2 separate regions of the Homo sapiens genome follow, and region 1 is reported to be linked to region 2. Evidence: microRNA targets listed by miRTarBase, many of them from high-throughput screens and not tested one by one. Region 2 holds a microRNA gene; the other region holds the end of a gene's coding sequence.

The links. The annotated mature microRNA hsa-miR-6772-3p reads UUGCUCCUGACUCUGUGCCCACA and lies in region 2 at 1,183-1,205, opposite strand. An mRNA with a match to its seed (bases 2 to 7 or 8) in the 3' UTR can be bound and repressed. Matches are read on the target gene's strand: a 7mer-m8 pairs with bases 2 to 8, a 7mer-A1 pairs with bases 2 to 7 and ends in A, and an 8mer does both.
Region 1: the mRNA of PLEKHO1 is a reported target of hsa-miR-6772-3p. The part of its 3' UTR that is shown has no 7-base or 8-base seed match.

Annotation. Positions count from the first base shown.
Region 1 is chr1:150,159,034-150,162,427 of GRCh38, forward strand. It overlaps PLEKHO1 (pleckstrin homology domain containing O1), which reads left to right. Exons shown (of 6, transcript NM_016274.6): 6 at 1-1,032. The coding sequence ends at 490. It overlaps LINC02988 (long intergenic non-protein coding RNA 2988), which reads left to right and starts at 1,695. Exons shown (of 4, transcript NR_135098.1): 1 at 1,695-1,777. RefSeq lists enhancers at 1-324, 1,455-1,764 and silencers at 625-674, 2,375-2,444, 3,033-3,102.
Region 2 is chr16:57,771,108-57,774,501 of GRCh38, forward strand. It overlaps MIR6772 (microRNA 6772), which reads right to left and starts at 1,245; the gene lies at 1,182-1,245. KIFC3 (kinesin family member C3) reads right to left here. Exons shown (of 20, transcript NM_001130100.2): 4 at 1,116-1,181; 5 at 436-579; 6 at 91-330.

The DNA.
Region 1 (3,394 bases), not on the chromosome of region 2:
AGACAAAGGGGCCACCTACACCCCCCAGGCACCCAAGAAGTTGACGCCCACAGAGAAAGGCCGCTGCGCCTCCCTGGAGGAGATCCTATCTCAGCGGGATGCTGCCTCTGCCCGCACCCTCCAGCTGCGGGCTGAGGAACCCCCAACCCCTGCCCTCCCCAACCCGGGGCAGCTGTCCCGGATCCAGGACCTGGTAGCAAGGAAACTGGAGGAGACTCAGGAGCTTCTGGCAGAGGTTCAGGGACTGGGAGATGGGAAGCGAAAGGCCAAGGACCCCCCTCGGTCTCCGCCGGATTCTGAGTCAGAGCAGCTGCTGCTGGAGACGGAACGGCTGCTGGGAGAGGCATCATCGAATTGGAGCCAGGCAAAGAGGGTGCTGCAGGAGGTCAGGGAGCTGAGAGACCTGTACAGACAGATGGACCTGCAGACCCCGGACTCCCACCTCAGACAGACCACCCCGCACAGTCAGTACCGGAAGAGCCTGATGTGAGGGCAGGGTGGGGTCTGGAACTTGTCGGGTTGGACAGACTCTTATCTCCGTGTTGCTGGATAAAGCTTTTTTATTTACCTCAATCAAAAAAAGAAAACAAAAATGAACTCATTGCTCTTGCTGATGCCTGACCCCACTACAACCCTTATTGCCCCACCTACTTTCCATATGCCCCTCGTATGCCCCTCAGGTTTGAGGAAGTGACCCCGCAGCAGTAGCAGGAAGTTTTTACCCAGCCAGAGAGAGAGAAGGCACGGTAAAGACACAGTCTGACCACTCCACACACCGCCCGCCCCCAAGACGGCACAGGGAGTCCACTGCTGCTCCCAAGGATACAGTGGGCTTCTAAGCTTAGAGCGGGAGGGGGATGAGGATGTTTTCTGTTATGTCCCACCCCAGGCCTTCAGTTTGAGGGTGAAGTTTCAGCTGCCCAACTCTAGTTGTAGGGATGTGGAGGCCAGTGTCACCTGTCCGTGCACATGGAAGTGAAATTTATCCCAGCCCTGAGGAGGATTTGTGGAATTAAAATCTCCCCAGCCAGACACTGGCTTCTCATTCCTAGCAGTCTCTCATTGAGATCGAGCTGCCTGGATTTTCTTACATGAGGTGTTTCTTCCCTTCATCTTCCACACCCTTCCCAACCTTGACTCAAAGATCCACCCTTGTCGGGCGCAGTGGCTCACGCCTGTAATCCCAGCACTTTGGGAGGCCAAGGCGGGTGGATCACCTGAGGTCAGAAGTTTGAGACCAGCCTGACCGACATGATGAAACCCAGTCTCTACCGAAAATACAAAAAATTAGCCAGGCATGGTGGTGGGCGCCTGTAATCCCAGCTATGCGGGAGGCTGAGGCAGGAGAATCACTTGAACCTGGGAGGCAGAGGTTGCAGCAAGCCAAGATTGTGCCATTGCACTCCAGCCTGGGCAACAAGAGCGAAACTCCGTCTCAAAAAAAAAAAAAAAATCCAACCTTGAGTGGATGAGACTAGTTTCATTATTTGATTCAGGGCCCTAGCACAGGGGAACTAGAGACAGACCCCACAGAAGAACTGAACTAAGAATGAAACTGGTGTGTGATGCAAGCTGGGTAGGATGAAGGGGAAAACCAAACATCTGTCCAAGTTCCTCTTTCAGCCATGCTGAGGTTTCCTGTAGCCTCCCCCTCTCCTTCCTCAAACCTCTTCCATCACTAAGCAAGTCCCCACTTTAGAAAAGCATCTGGATGCCCACGCCACCACCCTCCCAGCCACCTCTGAAGTTGCCAGGCTTCCCAACATTCTTGTCTGTGGTAGGTCCCACACAACTCACTGTTCACTCTTTCCTTGGAAGTGTGTGAGATGAGGTTTAGTAACGGTGAGGTCCCCAGAAGAGCTATGAAGGGAATAATTTGATTTTGGGAAAGAAGGGGACAGAGTCTCATGAATCAAGTAAATGAGGGGTTAAAAGCCACATTGAAGTGTGCCTTGCTAGCTGCTTGATCCTCCAAGAGCAGCGGGGCTTCACTAGAGGTAAGGGGAGGAGGGGGAGGAAACGGGGCCAAGTTACATGTAGACCTGGCCATGACGCTGCCCCGATGTTATAGGAAGATGGGATAGGAGGAAGCGGGGGAAAAACCTGTGGGAGAAACAGATTCTTCAGTCCGCATTCTTCTGCTCTAACGTCACTCCTACAACCCATGTAAGCAAAATGGGGGCCTCTGTCCCCTTTCCAGAAATCATCTCTTTCCTTCACAGCTCTTCTCTGGACCTTATCACTGCTGTTAAACCATCCCTAGGGCAGAGGAATTCTTGCTCTCTCTAGTCCCTTGCCACTCTGTCATGGAGATTGTCCCCAGCTCTAGACTGTAGTTACCTAGCCTCTTCCTTGAAGAATGTGTATCCCAGTTGAGTGAGGGAAAGTGTGCAAGAGTGCCACCTTCATGTCATTCTATGGTCTCTTGGGGTATGAGGTGAGAACCCAGGCTTCCAGACTTCCTGTCCTTCAAATAGCTGCACTCTCCACAGCCCTAAGCATGGTCAGCAGAGCCATCCATTGTCACAAGTATTGAAGTCTAAGGTAGAATTATGCTTTCTTTTTACAAGTCTCTATCTTTGTATTTTACCAGCATTTTTCCTTTTCTTTTTTTCTTCCTTGTTGCTCCCACATAATGAAAAAAGACAAAAGCACAAATGACATGTGTATCCCAACATGTCAATTATCTGTGGCTCCCAGGGGAGCCAGAAGATGGAGGGAGACACTAGAGAGGAGAATGACAGGTGAAAGAAGCAGAAAAGAAAGATCGGGGACCTCACAACAGTAAGAGAGGAGCTGGGCACTGTGCTCCTGGGCTTCAGGCTCTAAAACCAACAGCTTCCAGTTCTCCAGCAGTTACTGGAACATCCAGGCCCTAGGGTGGTGAAATGAGCCCAGCTTTGAAACCAGATGGATCTGGATTCAAATTCTAACTCTGTTACTTCTTGATTATGAGGCTCTGGGCAAGGCACATGCTTTCCGAGTATCAGTTTTTTTCATCTGCAAGCTGCAGAGCTATTGGATGGGTGAGGACAATATGGAAAATGCCTGTCAGTCAGAAAGTGACCACTGCAGCTACTGTTACTGGTTTGACTCTGGGCAGTGAGCCGCTAGCTCAGTTGGAAGGAGCACTGTGTGAATGAGGCCACCGGGGTGGGGTCACTGTCACTTAGCTAGATCCAGGCCACAGGCTGTGCTGGACCTCTCTCTTCAGAGGAGAGAGCCAGAAGGGATGAAAGCATGGTCCCTGGTCTTCAAGAACTTTAGAGCTTAGCATGGAACCAGGCTTCCCACTAGAAAAATCGCTTAAGGTGCACCCTTGTGGTAGGCTGCTGGCATGAGTTCTGTTGAAGCATTTGTATTGAACCTGGGCACTGTGACAGGAGGATGGGAA
Region 2 (3,394 bases):
TCACCAGGACAAGCCCCCCTTATGGGCTAGCCCTGCCCCAGGTGCCAGGGGCCTTGGGCTGAGGCACAGATCAGGTGGGCCAGGGCTCACCTTGACAGGTGGGGACTGGGCCCGCAGGCTGGCAATGGTCTCGTGGCTGTCACGCAGGCGCCGACTAAGCCGCTCCTCCTCCTGTGCCTTCTCAGCCAGGCAGTCCTTGAGTCGCAGCTCCACCTCAGCCAGCCGGTCGGTCTTCTGCTGCACCTCTAGGTTCAGCTCTGACAGCATGCCTTTGCTTTCCGCCATCTCCAGCTGCAGCTGGGACAGCTTGTCACGGAGCTGGGCGCTCTCCTGCAGCCATTGGGAGGCACTGGATGAGTGCAAGGGACAGGCTCACTGTGAGGAGCTGGGGTGGCCCTCCAGGACCAGCATGGGGACCACGGCCATTCTGCTCACCTGGCTGTGCTCACAACCTGGGCAGGGACCTGCTGGCTTTGTGCGCAGCTCTTGCAGCTCGGCCTCACAGCGCCGCATCTCCTGCCTCAGTCGCTCATTCTCCACCATCAGCAGGTCCCGGTGCTTCTCCAAGTCGGTGCCCCCCTGCAGAGAGCCAGGGCCGAGGGGGCGCATGTGGCGAGGGCAGATGACGGGGGAAAGAAGAGAGGCCCGCGGAGATGGCACAAGGGCAGGGAAGAGAGGAGAGGTGTGGAGAAAGGCAGAGGGAAGGAGAAAAAGAAAAAGAAAAAGGCAAGGGCAAGAGAGGAGGGAACAAGCTCAAGAGAGAAACCAAGAGAAAGACAGTGGAGGGCAGAGTTGAGAAGGGTGGTGACCCAGAGCCTGCTCTCCCTGCTGCCCCCACCCTATTCTGAGTGTGAAAGTCACAAGGAGAGACATATTTATACCAGGGTTCACACTCCCGTTTAATGTCAGCAACAGAGAAGGAACCTCCCACCCCCTGGAGCCACAAGGCCTCTGAGGGTACTAGGAGGTGGGGATAAGGCTCTCGGTGTGTTTCTGAGACAGGGTGGGATATGCGGGCTCAGGAGAGAGAGGGTCGCACCCCTGCCCCTGGCAGGGCCCATCTGCACAAGGCAGGCCAGGCCCTGCGCTACCCCAGGACAGCCTTGTGGCCTCACCAGCTCAGATCGCAGTCGGCTCACTTCCTGGGCCTGGCTAATGAGCTTCTCCTTCAGGTGTTCTACCTGTGGGCACAGAGTCAGGAGCAAGGTGAGCCTCAGTCCTCAGCTCCAGCCTACACCCAGGCCTCCTGCCCAGCACCAGGGATGACTGATGTGGCTGTGGCTTCTTCTAAGGCTGTGGCCTTAGGTTCCCCTATGTTCAAGCATCCCATCACACCTGGGACTTCAGGTGAGAGAAACCTGGGCTGGTGCTGACAGCCTCCCGCACCCTCTCCCTCCACAGGACAGAGCCAACCCCAGCTCTTCAGGAAAGCCCAGAGGGCAAGTGCAACCAAGGCCACCCCGATGCCCCCTGGGCCCACCCAACGGCAGCCCACCCTCAGGACCCCTCACTACACGAGCCCCTCCCAAAGTCCTGTACCTGCCTGTGTCTATGTAATTTTATGTTCTCTCTCTTTAAAAGGGCCCCCAGATGGTACATACTCCAGGTCCTCCGAGCCCTAGATCCACCCTGGCCCAGCCCCCAGAATTTTCCACTTGGGGTGGTCTCTGGCAAGTCAGCCTGTGGAGATGGGTCTGCCAGTGGTCAGGGCACACTCAGAACCTGTGTCCACCCCTGCTCCCAATCTGCCTTGCAGGAAAGCTGTGGCAGCCAAGGCTCTTATAGGGGGAAGGGGGTGTGCACCCCATGAGGAAGCCACGGTTACCTAGCTTATCCGGACCCCAGAAGAGGGGACACCATCATGGTGCCAGTCCCATGAGGGCAGATCCCAGGGGAGCAACCCTTCCCCGGCGCTGTCCTCCAGCCACCCATCCCCTCCCAAGGCCCTAGACCCTGGTCTCACATCAGCCCACCCCCAGAAACCTCTCTCAGGAAACAATTCACAGACACAGACTTTGGCTCCAGCTTCCGTCAGGGCATGTTTAGTACTTTTCTTGCAGAACGTCCTGTGGTGAGCAACCCCCACCTCGGGAAAGGTGCGCTAAGAGCCAGATTCCTGTGTGGTGGTTTAGGAGGTTTACACAGCTGGGTTCTCATTACTAAATGATAGGCAACAACGTCCACTGATTACAGGGGACAGCCAGGTAAGGCAGGTGAGGGGCTGTGCAGGGCTTGGCTCCCAAGAACCCTTTAAGAAGGCGGCCACCACGTACTCTCCTCGGACGACAGGAGGTGAGAACGCACACCCAGCATCGCCAAAATTCTCATCTTTCAAGAGAGGCCTAGGCCAGCCTGAGCAACACAGCAAGACCCCATCTCTACAAAAAGTTTCAAAACTCAGCCGAGTGCACCAGTGCACGCTTATAATCCCAGCTGTAATCCGGGGGGTTAGGTGGGAGATCACCTGAGCCCAGGAGTTTGAAGCTGCAGTAAGCTATGATAGCATCACTGTACCCCAGGGTGACAGAGCGAGGCTGTCTAAAAAAAATAAAATAAAAATAGAGGCTTAGAGTCCGCCCCCTTAGCACTCAGCAGCATGCATCAGCCATAGTTAAGACAGGCCGGACATTTGGATTTTGGGGGTGTGTGTAAAATCTCCCTACTTTACATGGTTGAGATGTCATCAAACAAGTCTGTGTCATCAAACAAGGTAGTGTTCGGCCTCGGAGGTCCCTGTCTCCCAGGGTGGGAGAGAACGGCTGACTCACAGCAGCTAGGCCAGCTCTGAGTGGTCAGGGAGGAAGTGGACCAAGGGATCCACCCCCACCTCTGAGGAAAAGGCCAGGGAGCTGGCACTGCCTGCTCTTGGTGGGGCAGGGGGATTCCAAGATGCAAGACCCAGGTGAAAGGCTGGGGGCCCAGCCAGGCCTCCTGGGGGACAAGCAGGTGACCCAAGGGCCAGACCCCTGGAGGTCAGCTCTGCCGCCACCTGCACAAACACATTCCTTCCTAGCAACACGCTGGGCCACGGGCCAGGCAGGGAGGCAGAGCTTGTGCCACTTCTCTGCCCGCTCAGTGCCTGATGAGAGGACGGCTCAAGTCCTTTGGCCCCTGGGTGGGAGTAGGGACAGTTTGCATGAGGCAGCCTTTCTGCTTTCGTCCTAAAATTGAGAATACCCTGAATAAGCACCCTTAGAGGAGTGGGCAGGTGAATTACAATGTGTATATATAGTACATAGACTATTCTGTCATCATTACATTCATGTTTATCAGGAGTTTTAAATGTCATGGGGAAAGGCTCATCAACATATTAAGTCCAAGAAACATCTGAAAAACCATTAAGTGTACAGCACTAAAAAGTGGGGGTCTCTGGGCTGTGGAATTATAGTTGACA